Linked DNA regions of Homo sapiens. The protein of the gene in region 2 interacts with the protein of the main gene of each other region in a pairwise test. Each region holds a gene or a part of one and is shown on either strand. Other genes may lie near its edges.

What was found. The genes of interacting proteins can lie anywhere in the genome.
Region 1: the proteins of CCNF (region 2) and E2F2 interact in a two-hybrid assay, tested with the Homo sapiens proteins (one study listed by BioGRID).
Region 3: the proteins of CCNF (region 2) and PELI2 interact in a two-hybrid assay, tested with the Homo sapiens proteins (one study listed by BioGRID).

Annotation. Positions count from the first base shown.
Region 1 is NC_000001.11:23,514,207-23,521,236, forward strand, and holds part of E2F2 (transcription factor E2F2), read right to left. Parts: intron 6,866-7,030; coding exon 6,707-6,865; intron 4,925-6,706; coding exon 4,810-4,924; intron 2,322-4,809; coding exon 2,129-2,321; intron 1-2,128. UniProt on the Homo sapiens protein: Transcription activator that binds DNA cooperatively with DP proteins through the E2 recognition site, 5'-TTTC[CG]CGC-3' found in the promoter region of a number of genes whose products are involved in cell cycle regulation or in DNA replication.
Region 2 is NC_000016.10:2,446,424-2,453,453, reverse strand, and holds part of CCNF (cyclin-F), read right to left. Parts: intron 4,600-7,030; coding exon 4,476-4,599; intron 4,173-4,475; coding exon 3,992-4,172; intron 3,627-3,991; coding exon 3,539-3,626; intron 245-3,538; coding exon 145-244; intron 45-144; coding exon 1-44. UniProt on the Homo sapiens protein: Substrate recognition component of a SCF (SKP1-CUL1-F-box protein) E3 ubiquitin-protein ligase complex which mediates the ubiquitination and subsequent proteasomal degradation of target proteins.
Region 3 is NC_000014.9:56,296,408-56,302,051, reverse strand, and holds the end of PELI2 (E3 ubiquitin-protein ligase pellino homolog 2), read right to left. Parts: intron 5,453-5,644; coding exon 4,886-5,452; 3' UTR 528-4,885; downstream 1-527. UniProt on the Homo sapiens protein: E3 ubiquitin ligase catalyzing the covalent attachment of ubiquitin moieties onto substrate proteins. Involved in the TLR and IL-1 signaling pathways via interaction with the complex containing IRAK kinases and TRAF6.

The DNA of each region.
Region 1 (7,030 bases), on a different chromosome or scaffold from region 2:
GAAGGTGGTTCCAGCTTCGGAGGGCTATGCGCATGCTGACACTTGAGTGAGGAGGCACAGCAGGAGGAGGATGGACCAGAGGGTGGGGCAGAGGTCTGGGATGGGAGATAGGCACTGGGGAGGTGTCCCAAGGGACAGATGGCTAGCACAGGGAGAAGCTCTGGTCCCTGATGAGGCCTGACAGACACAGGAGAGATCATTAGAGAAGAGTTGGGAGGCTGGGCTCTGGTCCCAGCTCTGCCATCAACTTGCTGTGTGACCTTAGGGAAGCCACTTGCCCTCTCTGGGCCTGTGTTCATTCATGTGTTAAAAGAAGGGTTGAGTTAGTTGGGGACAGCAAACTTCTATAAAGAGCTGGAGCCTGTAATCCCAGCACTTTGGGAAGCCAAGGCAGGTGGATCACCTGAGGTCAAGGGTTCAAGACCAGGCTGGCCAACATGGGGAAACCCTGTCTCTACTAAAAATACAAAAAAAAAAAAAATTAGCTGGGTGTGATGGCGGGCACCTGTAATCCCAGCTACTTGGGAGGCTGAGGCAGGAGAATTGATTGAACCCAGGAGGCAGAGGTTGCTGTGAGCCAAGATCATACCATTGCACTCCAGCCTGGTGACGGAGCGAGACTGTCTCAAAAAAAAAAAAAAAAAAAAAAGCTGGAGAGTATTTTAGGCTTTGTGGGACACTTGTGGTCTCTGTCACATAGTTGCCTTCTTTTTCTTTCTCCCACAACTCTTTAAAAATGTAAAACCATTCTTAGCTCATGGGTCATTAAAAGCAGGTCAGATTTGACCTGCAGGCAATAGTTTATTAACCTCTGAGTTAGAGAAATGGACACAACCAGTGTACTGCAGAGCCCTTCCAGCAAGCCTCTTCCATCAGCCCAGCTCTACCTCTACCTTGGTCTAAACGCTAGGGTTCTACTTAAGAGAATTCTGCTGCTAAGAAGACAAAAAGTGGAACACTGGCCTACATAGCCTTGAAGAATCCTGCCAGTCTAGCCGGATGTGTGATCCAGGAAAAGGCAAAAACTGTTCTGGAGAGGGGCCTTTACAGGCTTCCATTTGTACTCCTTCTGGACTCCCACCCTCCTTGGGAAGCTCTCAGGAACTTTGCTCCCTGGCAACTTACCTGTACTACCTTCCATCAGGGGTAGCCAGCTCTTAACCATACCGTCCACCTCCCAGCCAGAAGCCCCTTCTTCGATTTGATCTATGCCTTGTGGAGAGAGCACTGGGCTGGGAGTATGTAGACCAAGGTTCAAGACACAGCTCTGTTGCCTCCCAGCTGGGAGACCTTAGGTAAGACACATCACCTCTATGTCTTATTTTTTTTTTAATGGGCAAATTTTATTATTTTATTTTTATTAGAGATGGAGTCTCATTATGTTGCCCAGGCTGGTCTTGAACTCCTGGGCTCAAGTGATCCTCCCACCTCAGCTTCCCAGAGTGCTGGGATTATAGGTGGGGACCACAGCGCCTGGCCTATTTTTTAAAATTTTATTCTTATTTTTATTTTTGAGACAGGGTCTCCCTCTGTTGCCCACGCTGGAGTGCAGTGGCATGATCAGAGCTCACTGTAGCCTCAACCTCCATGGCTCAAGTGTTCCTCCCACCTCAGCTTCCCGAGTAGCTGGACTACAGGCGTGTGCCACCACACTCGGCTAATTTGTAAATTTTTTTATAGAGACAGGGTATCCCTATGTTGCCCGGGCTGCTCTTGAACTCCTGGTCTCAAATGATTCTCCTGCCTCAGTCTCCCAAACTGCTGGGATTATAGGCGTGAGCTATATAATCTCACAACAACCTATGAGTTAGACAGTATTAATTACTGCGCCCAACTCACAGATGAGAAAAATTGAGGCCAAGAGAGGTTAAGTAACTTGTCTAAGGTCACATAGCTGGTAAGTGGATGGGCTGGGATTCAAATCCAGGCCTTCCTCTGCCCTGGAGCAGCACCAGCCTTCCTAGTGAGGCTTTATAAAGCATTAAGTACAATGCACATGTGTGGGGTAGGATGACTACATCCCCAGCTGCTGGATAAAACAGGAGGTTTTCAACAAACATTGATATAGAAGAGAAAACTAAGGCCGGTCTCTCCCCCCACCTCCTGTCCCTCTGGACAAGGGACCTACCTGAGGATGCTGTGGGCTCCATGATGCTAGGGTCGGTGCTGCTGCTGGGCTGGGCAGAGTCAGGGCTGGGGCAGAGGGTGGAGGTAGAGGGGAGAGGCTCCTCGGAAGGACTGTCCGGCTCCTGCACCTCCTCTGGGCACAGGTAGACTTCGATGGGCCCTTGGGTGCTCTTGAGATATATCTGCAGGTTGTCCTGGAGGAGGAAGAGAAGCCAGGTCATTGCTCTGGGCAGCTGGACACTTACACTTAGTGTGTATGGACAGACGCACGTGGCTGCTGCCATCCATGGGTGCAAGCTCAAACCCTGGGCTGGCACTGAGACCAACTCCATCTGGCCTAACTAAGGTGGACTTCCGCTGTTTCTGCTGTCTGGCCCTGAAGCCCACTTCTTTTAGGGGGAACACCTTGATTTTCCTGTGGGAAATCACTCTTCCCCCCACTCTCAGGTCATCTAGTTTTGGGGCGGGGGGGGGGGGGCAGCACCCTTCCCCAATGCCAGTGGGTGAGCTTGTGACGCAGCCAGGAAAGTTAGTGTGACATGATTGGTTCAGGATGGCCCATGGCTCAGGTGGATCCAACCAGCACTAGGCCCAGGACTTTTGCTGGACTTGTGGGAAATGGAAGCCCCCTTCCCACTGGGGTTGCTGAGCTGGTATCATAAAAGCTACCTCTACCACCACAAGGAGAGAGCCCACCTGGGAATGGAGTCAGCACAGAGAAAAGCAGAGAGATGAAAAGCGTGAGACAGACCTGAAGTCATAGTTTGAGCATCTACATCCAACCTTGCCAGCAATCTCTGAATCTCCCCCAGGACTTGTCATTTGGTTCCCACCACCCCTACCCATACCTCCCGCTGAAGCCAGTTGGACTTGGCTTTCTGTTACCTGTAACCAAGAGTCCTAGTATTTGGTCTTCCCACCCTGTCCCTTCCCTACCACATAACCGCAACTTAAGCCACAACTGATGACATGCATGCCATCCAGGCACATGTCCAGGTCTCCATGCCTGTACTCACACAGAACTGCACCTAGCAAAAACCCTATTCATTCTTTAAGACCTAGTTTAACTGTCCCCACCTGGGATACCTCCTCTAACTACCCTTTCTCTATGCTTGCAAAGCACATCTTCAGTCTATAAATGACAGCGTCTTTTTCCCACTAAGTCGTGAACTCCTCCAAGGGTGGGGGCAGGACCTTAATTGTCTCTGCAGCCCCAGTTCTTCCTTTAAATAAATTATTTCTTGAGTCCTTATAATATGCCAGGCTCTGGGCAAGGGATACAAGGTGAGTAGAACATTCTCTTGTGAAGCTTACACCCTAATAGATGAAGCAGAATGCAATCGTGTAATCATGCCAAATATACCTCAGCAAATGGAGATTAAATTAAAGGCAGCGGAAAAGCACAGGTGTTTATGAAGTCTGGAGGTAATCAGAGAAGGCTTCCTTGAGGAAGTGACATTTGAGTTGAGACCTGTAGGATGAATAGCGGTAAATCAGGCAGAGAGGGAAGAACATTTCAGCTCGAGGGGAAGAGCATGTATGAGGGTCTTGCACGGCTAGGTGCGGTGGTTCACGCCTATAATCCCAGCACTTTGGGAGGCCAAGGCGGGCAAATCACTTCTATGCCGAAGTTCAAGACCAGCCTGGACAACGTGGCAAAACCTCGTCTCTACAAAAAAAACAAAAAATGTGCTAGGCATGGTGGCATGCACCTGTGGTCCCAGCTACTCAGGAGGGTGAGGTGGGAGGATGGCTTGAACCCGGGAGGCAGAGGTTGCAGTGAGCTGAGATCATGCCACTGCACTCCAGCCTGGGTGACAGAGCAAGACGCTGTCTTAAAAAAAATCAAATAGGTTGAGTGTGGTGGCTCATGCCTGTAATCCCAGCACTTTGGGAGGCCGAGGCAGGTGGATCATGAGGTCAGGAGTTCAAGACCAGCCTGACCAACATGGTGAAACCCCATCTCTACTAAAAAAAAAATACAAAACTTAGCCGGGAGTAGTGGCGGGCATCTGTAATCTCAGCTACTTGGGAGGCTGAGGCAGGAGAATCGCTTCAACCCAGGAGGCGGAGATTGCAGTCAGCCAAGATTGTGTCACTGCACTCCAGCCTGGGCAACAGAGTGAGACTCTGTCTCAAAAATAAATAAATAAATAAATAAATAAATCAAACAAAACAGAAGATCTCATACTAGGAATGAGCTTAGTGCAATGGGGAAACTGCAGACAGGTCAGTGTGGCCAAAACAAAGACAGATGGGGCAGCGGGGAAAAGGAGGTTGGCAACGTCAGCTGGGGTCTCAGAGCACCGAAGCCTCATAGGGAGTGTCAGGAATTTTGGTCTTTAACCTGGGAAAGCACGGTCAGCATGAAAGGATTTTCATGAGTATTGACACCGTCATACGTGGGCATGAGTGTGCATGTGCGCAGGAACCCAGGGCTGGTGGGATGCAGAAAGAAACCAGGAACAGAGATTTTCTCAGGCCACTACTCAGTCTCCGTTGCCCTTTCCAGCTTCTGCCATTTCTGCCCAAGCTTGAAGGCCACCAATATTGCCATGGACACCACAATGGGCCTGCAAAGCATGGGGCTAGGCAGTGCCAGGGACAGAGTCTGCAGAGCCGCCTGGAACGCTCCCTGGCAGGGTCTCAACCCTGCTCTCCACCAAATATTTCCCCTCTCACCTCAGTCCTGTCGGGCACTTCCAGTCTCGTCTGCGGAGGGGCCTTGACGGCAATCACTGTCTGCTCCTTAAAGTTGCCAACAGCACGGATATCCTGGTAAGTCACATAGGCCAGCGTAGGGCAGGAGAGTCAAGAAAAGTGACTGTCTGGTCAAAATTCAAACCCCAAACCTGCCAGGGAGCACCTTCACCCACCTCTCCTAAGCCTCTGAACATTACTTTCTCACTCCTTGTACAACTTAGAAATAATACAATCTGTAACCTGTTAATCTCATAAGCTACCTTAGATCCCTTTGGAAAGCAAATGGGAATATAAATCATAAAAAATGTTGCCTTACATTATAAATCATAAAAAATGTTGCCTTATGTAAAGGCTTCATCTCTCAAACTAGATCATTAGCTCTGAGAAGGCAGGAAGATGTGTTTTATTTCTTTATATTTCTCACAATGCCTAGCATCCTTCCAAAAATACAAGGTCAGATCCAAAACCAATTAGATATGAAATGATTTTGGAAAATGTATGAAAGAGCCTTAGCAAAGTCCATGCTCTTTGACCTCATCATTTCAATCCTAGGGATCTGACCTAGGAAACAAGTAAAAATATGGGAAAGCATTCTATGTATAAAGATATTCGGCCGAACGCGGCGGCTCATGCCTGTAATCCTAGCACTTTGGGAGGCTGAGGCGGGTGGATAACTTGAGGTCAGGAATTCAAGACCAGCCTGGCCAACATGGTGAAACTCCATCTCCACTAAAAATACAAAAATCAGCTGGGTGTGAAGGCCGGGTGCGGTATCTCACTCCTGTAACCCTAGCACTTACGAAGGCTGAGGTGGGTGGATCACCTGAGGTCAGGAGTTCGAGACCAGCCTGACCAACATGGTGAAACCCCGTCTCTACATAAAATACAAAAATTAGCCGGGTGTGGTGGCAGGCGCCTGTAATCTCAGCTACTTGGAAGGCTGAGGCAGGAGAATCGCTTGAACCCAGGGGGCAGAGGTTGCAGTGAGCCAAGATCATGGCACTGCACTCCAGCCTGGGCAGCAATAGTAAGACTCCATCTCAAAAAAAAAAAAAAAAAATTAGCCAGGCATGGTGGCGGGCACCTGTAATCCCAGCTACTTAGGAGGCTGAGGCAGGAGAGTCACTAGAACCCAGGAGGTGGAGGTTGCAGCGAGCCGAGATTGTGCCACTGCACTCCATCCTGGGCAAGAGTGAGACTCTGTCTCAAAAAAAAAAAAAAAAAAAAAAAAAAAAAAAAAAGCTATGTTCAGCAGGCACACAACTACATTACAACTATATTGAAATAAAACACATTCTGTGTGCAGTTCAAGAACAATGGCTATGTTAAGGTGGCAGCTCATCATTCTTTTTCTCCGTTTTCCAGATTTAAAGAAATTTACTTGGCTTATTTTCAATAATGAAAAAATACCTTTAATAAACTTGAGGCCAGGCACAGTGACTCATGCCTGTAATCTCAGCACTTTGGGAGACTGAGGCAGGAGGATCGACTGAAGCCAAGAGTTAGAGACCAGCCTGGGCAACAAAGCGAGACCCTGTCTATACAAAAAATAAAGAATTAGCCAGGCATGGTGGCACATGACTGTAGTTCCAGCTATTCAGGAGGCTGCGGTGGGAGGATCACTTGAACCCAGGAGGGCGAGGCTATAGCGAGCTATGATCATGCCATTGTACTACAGCCTGGATGACGGAATGAGTCCTTGTCTCTAAAAAAAATAAATAAATAATTTTAAAAATAGACTTGAGAAGAAAAGCCACCCAGGAAGGAAGAAACAGATGCCAGACCCTTAGGGTAAGTTACTGAATCAACTCAGGATAGATATAAACATGCAACAGGTTCCTGCTCCCTGACACCTTCCCCCAACCAAGGAGGATATCTCTTGTTGGCCTTGTCCTCAGTCAGGTGCTTGAAGCTCAGAGAGCAGCTCTGGATGAGCTGGTCCAAGGCCTGCTCCGTGTTCATCAGCTCCTTCAGCTCCTGCCCCAGCTGTTGCTGCTTCCCAGGTCTGGTGGGGTCTTCAAACATTCCCCTGCCTCTGGGAACAGAGCAGCCCCCCAGTGTCAGTCTGTGGGTGAAACTCCAGAACAAGGTCATTCAAAAAATAGTCTATGAGGGTGCTTCCCTGGGTTGTGGAAATCAGTGGTCATGCCTGTCTCTCAGGGAGCTACCAGGGATTGGAACCAGAGGTTTGGGGGTTGGG
Region 2 (7,030 bases):
TGTGTCACTCCTAATGCAGCACACAACTGGCTGTAGCTCAGCACCTGAGGGGAAGCTAGAGTTAGGGGGTGCAGAGGCCCCGAGGGTGAGGCCCGCCCACACCCCAGCACCCCATGAGACGCCCAGGTGGCGGGAGGGAGGCACCTCTTCCTGGCTGATTTCTCCATAGCGCTTGTCCTCAAACCGCTGCTTCACGGCGGTCAGAGAGACTTGCCTGTAGTCCTTGGGGGCGTCATCATGGAAGCTGGAAACAGAGTCACGTGGAGTGGACATGTGAGGCACCCCCACCCCATTTTTAGCTTCAGTTCACTGAAGTGAGCAATGAGAATGCAAAATGGTGCAGTCACTCTGGAATCTGACCTGGCAGTTCCCCGAATGGTTAAACTCAGTCACCACAGGACCTAGCAATTCCTCTCTAGGTAAAGACCCAGGAAAAAGGAAAAACTATGTCCACACAGAAACCTGTACTAGAATGTTCATGGCAGGACTGTTCACAATAGGCAAAATGTCCACCAGCTGCGGGATGGATAAACACATGTGGTCCATGCAGGGGAATATTATTCAGCCATGAAAAAGAACAAAGCAGGGACACACACCACATGGACAAACCCAGCAAACGTTACCGCGAGGGAAATCACCTAGACACAGAAGGCCACTTGTCCGATGACGCCATTTATATGGAATGTACAGAATGGGAAACATCCATGGACAGAAAGTAGACTACTGGGGGTCATCTAGCGCTGAGGAAGTTGGGGGGAACGGGAGGGTGACAGCTGAGGGGTGTGTTGTCCCTTTGGGGAAAGTGAAAATGTCATCAATTTGATTGTTGTGATGACAAGCACAACTGTGTGAATAAAAGCCCGTTAAATCACACAATCAAAGGAAGTGTAGTTTCTAAATAACGTTTCTAATTTATCTTGTTTGGAAAAAAAATTAACTTCTTCAGGAGGAAGAGAATAAACGCAGCCCAGAAACAGCTTTTGGTGGCCAGGGTTGGGACGATCTGTGCTCCCCATAAGCAAAGGTGGGTGGGACGAGACCCATGCGAACCCTTCTACTGTCAGCCTCGTTCCTTGCCCAGAAGGCACAGGGTCCGGGCACTGCAGGAGAAAGCAGCATGAGCAGCAGCACATGCCAAAGCCCGGGAGATGCCACCAGGTCCCCTGTGGCTGGAGCACAGCATGGTGGGAGAAAAAGCAGATGGGCCACAGAAGGGGCTGCTCAAGGGCATCGAGACCCCCAGGGAGTTCTGATCTCATCCTGGAAGCCGGACAGCGAGGCCCTGGGTGACGTACACGGGACATGTGCGGGGCGGCTGCCACAGTGTTCCAGGAGGCCGGGCAGCCGCCACGGATAGCTCCAGTCCCCAAGCTGTGAGCGCACGAGGAAACTGCACTGACGAGGATGCAGGGATGGAGAAGCAGCAGCGGCTGGTGGAGGCCTCAGCTGGGCACACAGGGCTTCATGCACCACGACCCACCAGGGCCAGAACAGGCAACAGGCCGTTGGCTGAGTCACGCTGGCAGGGGGGTGGCAGGTCAAGGTTGAGATGTGGCCTGAATTCTGGAAGTGGTGAAGTCTCCCAGGAAGGAGTCTGAGGAGTGGCAGAAAGCCAGAATTCCGGGGCCCCTTGGGGTGGGTGGGAAGGGAGACCAACACCTAGGCCGCATGGCCTAGGGCAGGAAGCCGAAGCCCCCGAGGGAGGGAGGGTCAGCGTAATGCTGGCTGGAGAAAAGCACCCAGGCCTGCTGTGCTGGTGCCTGTGGTTTCTGCTACTCGGGAGGCTGACACAAAAGAATCCCTTGAGCCCGGGAGGTCAGGGCTGCAGTGAGCTAGGATGGTGCCACTGCACTCCAGCCTGGGCCCCCAACTCAAAAAAGGAAAAAAAAGCCCACACCGCTGAGTCTGCTGGATTTGGCTGAGGAAAAGGAAGCCATGGCAGAAGCGGGGAAGTGGGAGACCAGGGAGTGGGGGTGCCGAGAGGTGGGAGGAGCAAGTCTGTGAGCACAGCTGAGGAGGGGAGACGGAGATGGCTGGCCGGGTACAAATTCAGCCCCGTGCTTGTCCCCCTCACCCCTCACTGCCATGACTCCACTCATGGCCCCCAGCCCCACTGGTCTGCACTGGGCCCTGGCATGGCTGCCCCCTTTGCCCTGGACTCAGATGCCCAGGTGACCCCGGCTACGCTCCCTGAAGGGAGTCGCCCCCGCCCGCGCCACCTGCCCCGCGCGCCTGCCTGCTGTTTCTCTCGTCACGACCTGACCTCTGAACTCTCTGTCCTGCCCTCTCCCCCAGCGCCTGGACCACGGTAGGGACTTCATGAACTGCATGGAACAAACCAACGTGGGCTGAAGGGAAGCTGCCAGGGCGAGTGAAGGGGCTTAGATGTGGCGAGGGCCGGGCCAGGCTCACCAGAGAGAAGGGCGGAGGGGCCGGGGCAGGTGGAGGGAAGCCCAGTGGGGCTGGGGCAGACAGGGGGTCACATCCGGGCACGACGGCGCAAGGGACCCACCCGCAGTCTCCATCTTCTCAGTGAGACAGAGGATAGCTCTATCCCAGCAGCTGCATCAGGGCAGAAGCTGTTCTCTCAAGGGAAGGGGAGTATTTTCCTGACTGGGGGCCACGTGGTGTCCGCTGCACTATGAGCTCAGCCACCGCCAGAGCAAAAGCAGCAGCAGACAATGTGGAAACCAGTGAGGGTGGCTGCTGCCAAGAAAACCCCATTCGCAAAAGCAGCCAGATGCCGCCTGAGGGCCACGGTGTGCCAGTGCCTGAGCTAGATGACAACTTGACAACACGCACAAGTTACCACGGGTCAGGGAGATGCCCTCATTTTTTCTAGTATGTTCTGCTGCCTGTGCAATGAGCTTGGGTTGGGAGCAGCTGCTCTCAATGTGAAAAATGTGTGAGATAAGAAACTACTGGAACTTTTTTTTTTTTTTTTGAGATGGAGTTTCACTCGTTGCCTGGGCTGGAGTGCAATGGCGCAATCTCGGCTCACCGCAACCTCTGCCTCCCGGGTTCAAGTGATTCTCCTGTCTCAGCCTCCTGAGTAGCTGGGATTGCAGGCGCATGCCACCACGCCCAGCTAATTTTTTTTTTTTTTTTTTTTTTTTTAGTAGAGACAGGGTTTTGCCACGTTGACCAGGTTGGTCTTGAACTCCTGACCTCGGTGATCCGCCCGCTTTGGCCTCCCAAAGTGCTGGGATTACAGGTGTGAGCCACCATGCCTGGCCAGTTGTTTTTAGAGACAGAGTCTTGCTCTGTCACCCAGGCTGGAGTCCAGTGACGTGATATCAACTCACTGCAACCTCTGCTTCCTGGGTTCAAGCGATTCTCCTGCCTCAGCCTCCTGAGTAGCTGGAATTATAGGCGTGCACCACCACGCCTGGCTAATTTTTGTATTTTTAGTAGAGGTGGGGTTTCACCATGTTGGCCAGGCTGGTCTCAAACTCCTGACCTCAAATGATCTGCCCGCCTCGGCCTCCCAAAGTGCTGGGGTTACAGGCATGAGCCTCTGCGCCCGGCCAAAACTCACCACTTCTTATGGAGGCTCAAGACGCAGGGAATGAGGTCTTCATAGGAGAATCCGGTGAGGTCCCACAGCTGAGTGGTCCAGGGCTGTGCTGGGGAGGAAAGCAGGCCAGGGGTGGAGGGGATGGAGGGGACGGAGGGGATGGAGGGGACGGAGGGGCTGTGGTGACAGCCGCCTGAACACTCCCGCTCTATAGCTCTGTGGGCTCTGCTGTGGAGTTTCTTGGAGCTCAGGGTTGCAATCCTTTTAAAATAGTTTTGAAAAAAACCCATACATAGGGCGTGCAGGCTCATGGTCAGAAATCTGGGACATCACTGAAGGTAGGAGCCGTGCTGTATCTCACCCCCCAAGAAGTAACCAGGACAAATGGATGCTGGACTCTTTTCCTCCCCACAGCCTCCTCCTATGTCAGCACCTTCCCCGACACAGGCATCCCTGGGAAGGGCCACTCCTTACTCTGCCCGTGCGTCAGTCTGGCCAGGAGCAGGGCTGCGGCAGCCAGGCGGGCTGGGGCGTAGGCGGACAGGCTGGTGTGCAGCAGGGAGAGCTCGCAGAGGAAGCTGCACAGGTGCTGGGTTCTCAGCTCCACAGGGACTAGCGTCAGCAGGACCTCCTTGTAATCCACCACAGTGGGGACCTAGACAGCCGGGACGGGGTGTGGGCTCTCAGCGCTCGGGGGCTCCTTGGTGCAGTGCCGCATGCAGGCCCAGCGCAGGGTCTGGCCCGGATGATGTTCACGCCGATGCTGCACGCGTAGCGCACCAGCGCAGATGGCGACGTGGTGCAACCGTGGCCTCCTGCTCCATGGCTTTGGGCACAGCAGAGACAGCTGCTCTCTGAGTCCATGAGGCCCTCCCACAGCAGGAAAGCTGAATGCCCACCCCCACCCTCCAGCACAGCGACAACGAAGATTAATAAGGAAAATGGAACCGCTGCTTACTCGAATCTTCCCTTCCAAGGCGGAGACGATCTCGCCCATCATTCTCACCAGGTCCTCGTACTTGTAAGTGTTGTCCGTGAGCCATACGGCCTCCCGGATGGTCAGGATCTCTTTACTGATAAACCTGCAACGCCGAGAAGGGGTCTCAGGGTGGAGCCCACTTCCTGGGGCAGGGGTGGGGCGGAGGGACCCAAGGCTTTAGGAGGCCTCAAGGTAGGGAGGGAGCCATGGCGTTGGGCTTTGGTGACAAACAGAGGCTTCATAATGGAGCCAGCTGCCTGTGGCTGACAAGGGGCATTTAAAAAAGGGGAGGCCCAGGCAGGAGGACAGCTCAGCCAGGAGTTCGAGACCACCCTGGGCAACAAAGCAAGACCCTATCTCTTCAAAAAGTTAAAAAATAAAAAATTAGCAGAGCATGGTGGCACGTGCCTATAGTCTCAGTTACTTGGGACGCTAAGGTGGGAGGATTGCTTAAGCCCAGGAAGTTGAGGCTGCAGTGAGCTTTGATTACACCACTGCATTCCAACCTGGGTGACAGAGCAAGACACTGTCTCAAAAAATAATCATCATAATAATAACAAAGGGGAGGTCAGAAAGTGCTGGAAAGAGGGATGAGAGCCACAAGGCAGACAGAAAGCAGCAAGGCTGTTAGGCAGACTCACAAATGTCTGCAAAAGGCCCAAGTGCCCTGAGCATTCAGTTTGCTAAAAGACACCAAGGACAGAGATTTGCCTGTCACGTGACAGCTCTATCAGTGGGGTAGAAATGTTATAGACCCAGAAGGTGGGTGAGTCACCAGATCTAGGAATTGGAGGCAAAGGGCCCAAGGGTTGTTGGAAAGTCTGTGCCCGGCACTGTGTGGCCGCAGGAATCCTGACTGTCTCTAGGCGATGGTCACCCTGTTCTCTGTTGTCAACCAGCGCCAACTATCAGGGAACACGCTGCTCCAGCGGCCCCCCGCAAGGCACCTTCCCCTTGGACTGAGGCCAAGTCCCTTGGCTGCTCTGTCCTGGGGACTCTGCAGGTTGCATGCGTCATTCACTTGACCAAGAGGACAAGAGGCGCAGGGACTACACCTGCCAGCGTGGGGGCTGCAGACGCCAAAAAGACAAGATGTCAGTGGCCAATGAGAGCCCAGCGTGGGGTGTGAGATGGCTGGTGGGGGCAGGGCACCTCTGAGAGCAGAGGTGGGGGGCAGCTCAGCCTTTAAAATCTTTTTTTTTTTGAGACAGAGTTTCCCTCTGTCACCCAGGCTGGATTAGTGCAGTGGCGCTATCTCAGCTCACTGCAACCTCCGCCTCCCAGGTTCAAGTGATTCTCATGCCTCAGCCTCCCAAGTAGATGGGACTACAGGCGCCCACTACCACGTCTGGCTAATTTTGTTTGTATTTTTTTGAGACAGAGTCTTGCGCCATTGCCCAGGCTGCAGTGCAATGGTGTAATCTTGGCTCACTGCAACCTCTGCCTCTCGGGTTCAAGCAATTCTCCTGCCTCAGCCTCCTGAGTAGCTGGGATTACAGGCATGCACCACCACGCCCAGCTAATTTTTTGTATCTTTAGTAGAGACAGGGTTTCACCATGTTGGCCAGGCTGGTCTTGAACTCCTGACCTCACGATCCGCCCACATCAGCCTCCCAAAGTGCTGGGATTACAGGCGTGAGCCACCGTGCCTGGTCCCCGGATTTAAAAAAAAAAAAAAAAAAGATAATAAGGCAGAGTTGATTTGAGGGAGCTGTGGTGATAGTTATATGGACCACTGCAATCAGGTCTTGTGGTTGGGGAAGAAATTGGACTCAGCTCCCTGAAACGTTTTTAGCAGTTATTCTCTCACTGCCAGCCGGTTGTGGCCCAGGAGCTTTGTCGTAGGTTGCAGTGATGGATGTGCAGTCAGATCCAGGGAGGCGGCCGCCCGACCTCCTCAGTCGTCTCTGGTCGGAAGACCTGGGACGCTGGATTCAGGCCCAAGAGCGCATCTGAAGACAGCTCTGGATGCTTGTGGCAGGGTTTGCTCCCTCCTTCCATGGGAATGACACTGCATCGAGCTGGCACACACAGGCCCGAAGAGACTACACCTCCCAGTTCCCGTCTGGTGAGATGTGGTCACAAGACTAAGCTCAGTGCAAAGGTGAATGTGGCAGGTACAGGTGTCACAGGGACAAGGGCAGCACCCTAGTTGGTGGCAGAGATTAAGATGGGAGATGGGGCTCCTCTGCTTCCTCATGAAACAAAAAACATGCCAATGACCTGAGCCTGGAACCTCTGCCTCTGGGTTACCTGTGCAAGAAAGAAACAAGTCTCTGTAGCTTACACATATGCTGTGTGCAGCCAAGCCTATCCTCACCCACCAGGCTCTACAGAGGAGTCGGTCTGGAAAGCACTTCCTCGGGAAATGTAGACCATGCTGGGGACAGCTGGTTTAGGAAATGCAAATCGTATTGTGAGAATCATTTCCACGTTATTTCCAAAGGCGGAACTAGGGGATCCAGCATTAGTTAAAGGAAAGCAGTGGTCTGATTTGAAAAGGACAGGCTGCCGTGTAAGGACGCACGCTGCTG
Region 3 (5,644 bases), on a different chromosome or scaffold from region 2:
TCTTCTAAGAGTTCTATAGTTGTAGCTCTTTGACCCATTTTGATTTAATGTTTGTATGCTGTGTGAGGTGTATTCCTTGCCCAATGGAATGTAACTTACAATTATAACCAGTTGTGATTTTCTATAACACATCTCACAATTCGTGGCATCTTAGATTTGACAAAGTATGGAACACTTATCCCCTGAAATAAAAGCCTATATAAATGTGCATTTTTTTTCTGGAAATGAAAAATCTGTTTCTCTCAATAATACTAAAACTCTTTGAATATCAATGTGATGAGAACAAAATTTGTCATAAATATATACATTTTCTTATGATAGATATATTAGTTTAAGGCTTCAAGGAAGGCTTGAAGGCTTATACACAATCCTTATTATGTTGTTAAAAGTGAATGAAGACTGTCACAAGAGCAGCAATATGGCTGAAATGATCATGACAAAAATCCATTAATTCTACAAGTCAGGTTAAATTCCCCTGGAAGTTAACTTTATTTGACAGTGATGTAATGTCACGAGAAATAGTAATATAGGCACCAAGGAAATTTCTTTAATTAAAAAATGTAGGGGATTTTCAGAATCAAGGTTTAAATATGTATTGTGCAGAATATAAAACAATTAATAAACTCAACAGCTGGAGATTAACTTGGAAGTTAGAGAAGTGAAAAAAATCAGTTCTACTCGTATCAACCTACTAAATGTCCTAATGAACTCAGTGACAACCACAGAATCTGAAGACAATGGCTCACAAACAGGCTGATATCCATTTAATAGTTTTTGAAGATTTTTTCCTGTAAAATGGCTTGTATTTCCACAGGTACAATAGTGAAGAAATAAACTTTTCAATTTGACATGAAATATAAAACAACAATTTTACAAACATATTCATAAAATTTAACTGCTAATAACACAATACATGGTAAATGTGACCATCCCCTTAACTTCTAGACTATTTAATACAGAGAAGCAATCTGTCATCTCAGCTAAAAAGAAACATCTTTCCTTTCATTGAGTTTATTTTTGTTTGTTTAGAAACTGTCAAGCAAAACTGGAAAATACTTATTTTCCTTATCTTCCTCTAGGGATTCTTCATGAGGGCAAAGACTTATTTGAAAGGATGTAAGTTATACTAAAAAGAAAATACTGAACCTTTTTTTTGTGTTACTGCTTCAATGATGCTTAGATTATTTTAAAAAGATGCTGAAGTCGTCTCATTGGTCGCACAGAAGGAGGCGCATCATAACCTAAGCCACAAAGGCTAAACTACTGGGACAGAAGATTGACAGTAAAGGGATGGAGATGGATTTGGCTTAAAATCAAAGTCCTGTGGTTTGTCTATCAGAAATTCCACTGTTATGAGGCAAGGCTGCAAGAAGATAGTTTTTACCCAGCATTAACAATGGTGTAATCACACACCCTTTCAAGCACATCCAAAGAACAGAATGGCTTTAAAAAAGAAAAGAAGTGAAACAAAACCATAGAACTGCAGGTAACAATTCTACAACCTATATTACACTTCAATTAAGCAGAAAACTCTCGTAAGTGTCCACACAATACTGAGCTCCCAAATAACAGAGGTTTGAGTTTTTCCATGAAAAAAAAAAAAAAGACATTGAAGCTTTATGAACTAAAGAGTTCTCCTCAAGTTTCCCAATACAGTAAATGTAATAACTTAAAATAATTTCCCTATTGGTACTGGAAAATAAATTCTACTACAATCATGTTTATGCCAGTTTCTGACATATTTCTGCATCCAGATTCATTAGTCTCCTTAATGGAGCCCATCATTTTTCCAATGGCTTTCTCCTTTCTTTAAACCCTAACCCTGAAATTCTATAACCAGTTATATCACGTGGCTTCCCTGAGGCACAAAGGTACCAAAGTCTATAATTAACTATCGAGGAATGATAAATATGTTCTCTATTTATATTAACAGATTTTAATTCTTTTGGGCCACAGTTGGGAGAAAAAAATCCAGAAACCTTAATACTCTGCAGGGTGAACTGTAGCCCTTTTTGCTAAAAGCTGAACCAAATAAGGGAAATGTTGAGAGTTGCAGCATGCATGACCCGGCAGCACCGATTATTAATAAAAAATTCCGGACTAGAAAAATACTCAGAGTTGTACTCCATCCACTCTGAATCTTTTTTTTTGTAGTAAACGACATAAACAACTGAAAAATATTTCTATGGGAATACATCACTGGGACTTTTACTTCTGGAAAGCTACTTGCAAAAGGCATTAGAGTCAGGCCAAGACAACTAATTGGTCTGCAATTTCCTTGTGTATACACATGGGGGAGTGGGGCTAGTCCTTTAAAGTGATGGCAAGACATAAAAAAAGAAGTGACCTTGGAGAAATTACTTTTCTGAATTGCGTTTCTCCACCTTGGTGAGCTACAGAGTTCTTTATTTTCACAAACTAACTCAACTGTGAAAAAAAAAATCTCCTTAGTCAAAATTGTAAAGGGATCTTCCTACAAGTGGCCAAGAAGAGCCTGGTGTCCTTTTTGCTGATTTGCCACCTCTCTGCAGTTCCTTAGGCAGGGTGGGCGGGACCTGACTTTGGAAGCCAAAGGAAAAGATGTGGAGCCCATGGAGGGCGGTTCACTGTTACCCCTTCCAAGAGCTTGGAAATTATTTCCCAAATTTCAACTTATATTTAAGCTGAATTTACTAAAAGTCAGAAACTTTTAGTTAGACATATGCCCAACTACGGGACGTGTCCAACTTGGAAGGTAACTTCATTTTGGGGGATATGTCACGTTGCAGAATGACTAGACTTATAAACAGGACTTGAAATGGAAAATTATGATATACCTAACTCTCTGGAAAAATATCTTTTTTTCTTGGTAGGTAAAATCTGGCCTTTCTGGATGCAAGACCATTTAGCTTACAAGATGGTTTTAGGGCATCAAGAATCCTTCAACCACTTTCTAGGCATACAGCAAGAAAAGAGAACGAGTGCCTCCTTTGTCATTCTTTGGGGCCCAAAGAATTACAGGCTGAAAAGACATACTCTATCAGTGAAAGCTAATCATCAGAGACTCTGGCTAAATCAAAAGGCATTCAATATATTATTCTAGGCAAGTCCATTTTTTTCTTTCATTTTCTGTCTGCAGGTAGAGTAAGCTATACAGAATACAGCAAGCTATCTGTAAGAGGACTGTTGTCATCGATTTTCACACCATTTAAAATTTACCCAAACAAAACCAAAACCAAAAATGTCTCATCCTAAACAATGATCTCCACTGAAAAATAAAGCTATATTAAAACTGAGAGGCTGAACTTTAAACATATTACATCAAATTAAGCAGCAGCAATCAAGAGTAATATTATCGTATCACTTTAAGGAAAAGCGTATTCAAATAGGTTAGAACGACTGAAAATAGGCAAAATATTTGCCAGTAGGCAAAATACGAAAAAACCAATTCAAGTATGGATATAGTACATTAGAATCATATAAATTACGTATATGTACAAAGGTTAAAAAAAAGTCACCCAAATCTGCAATGGTCAAATTAAGAGAACATTAGTTTAAATAAATACTTATTTTATCTCAGCCAGCTTCTACCAGTCTCATGTCCTAAAGGATCTTTACCTTCTAGGAGCAGTGATACGATCGATGCCAAGCATCCAAGAATTATTAATCAAAATGAAATGAAAGTAACAGGAATGGTGGAGCTCCTATGAAATTCTCATTTAATTATTCCTCAGCAACACTCATTTGCTCTCTCAAAAGCAGGAATTTTGAATTATCTCTGCAGATGTACCACTTGGTGTTGTGTATATCTAATCATCCCACTTAAATTTAGTTTGATTCGCAAACATTTTCAAAACTTACTGGGCTCCTTAAGCTGCAAGGGAAGGTGACAGATGGTGAAAAGGGAGTGCACAACAATGACTATATCATTGTGATTGGTTGGCTTTCTTAACAAAGGAAAAAAAAAAACCCCAAGCTTTATGAAACCTCAAGTGGTTTTAAAAAGTAAAAGCTTATTTTTAATCATTCTTAAATCTTAATTCAGTCAGCAAATAAACATGGTAGTATAGTACCCAGACCATGTCTACTACTGTAATTACCCTCAGTTAATGAGTTTTTAAGAGCTGATGTATTTTAATCAACCAAACAGTTCTGGCCGTGCAAGATGAGTATCGGGGCAAATCATATTAGGCAGAAATAACAAAAGACAGGCTAAAAAGTTATGGAAAATTGTTTGTGAAGTCCCATGTATTTGATGAATGAATATCTAAAGTAAATTCCACTGAAGTTAAAAAAAAAAAAAGCCCACAAGTTATGAATATTCTCTCCCCCAACAAGTCAGAAAAATAAATCAGAAAAAGCCCCAGATTTCAAAACCACCTGTGCCTAAGGCCATCTGTCCACCAGTCACACTGTACAGAGCCGCCCCTCTGCTGTCTGGTCAGGTTTGAGCCACGATCAAGTATTTCTAGACACTGTGCGCCCTTCGCGTAACACCTACACCACACTGCACTGAAGTGAACTTCATGAGCCCACACTTTTGAATAAATTTCTTCTACATCTGTAAAATATGATTTAAAGTCTTGTCCAAGATTACAAAAAAAAAAAAACTTGGTTAAAAACCCAAGGTTAAAAATAGAAGCATAGCATTTTAAATCCAATTATTACAAAGATATTATGGTTTAATCAAGCAGACTTCAATGACGACGCTGCTGTTTTGAGCATGCAACACACCACTGGTATCTGTTACACTCCTGCCATGTTTCATCACCATGTCCCCTCTCTTTATTTCCAGCCCCTGTCACCCTCCTCTGATAAACAGCATTACAAAAAGGTAAAATCTAGAGTTAGTGGCAAAATCTTCACAGTAACCTGTTAATAAAGTCGTAGATGGCTGTCAAGGGCGTCAGTCAATTGGACCTTGGAAAATTAATTTGATGCAGTTTTGCTCCCCAACCAGCTGTGTAGCACAGAAAGGGCAAGCAGCGTGAAATGCATGAGTTCCATGAGGCAACGGGATCTGAGACCAGTATTTTGCAGACTTCTCCGAGCACACGTGTCCACAGGGAGTGAAAGCATGAGTTGGCGGTCCTGCGTCTACATAAAATCCTGCCTCACAGCCAAGCCAGAGAGGCACATAGGGGCCCACAGTCCTGCACATGGGACACTCCCTCTCGTTGGCCTCCGTGTCACTCCGATGGCCCCAGTTGTGGTACCCGTGCACGTGGCCACAACTGAGATATGCCCAGGGCTGCTTCTCCTCCACCACCTCTTTCCTGTTGATGCTGGGGAAGGCCAGGGTGTTGAGCCCCACAGGACACTGAGGCCGGGCGGCGTTAATCTCCTGCCGGAGGGCTTCTATGTGCTTCTGAGTTGGAGTATGAAAAAGCCCATCTGCTGTTCTCCAGAGGAGAGTGGCCCCACACAGGTCAATGAGGGAGCCGTCCTGCAGGACGTTGGTCTCACTTTCCACCTACAACAAGTTTGAGACACATGCCTTTTAAAAGCAAAATCAAGCAAATCACTCCAAGATTCTTTCCTCTCAGAACAAGCAAAAAAATATTTGAAGATAACACAGGGAAGCAATTTATCCCACAAAAACAGAACTGGGGGAGTAACCTATCCTCCCCGAGCCTCATCTTCCTCATCTGATCACTGGATATGA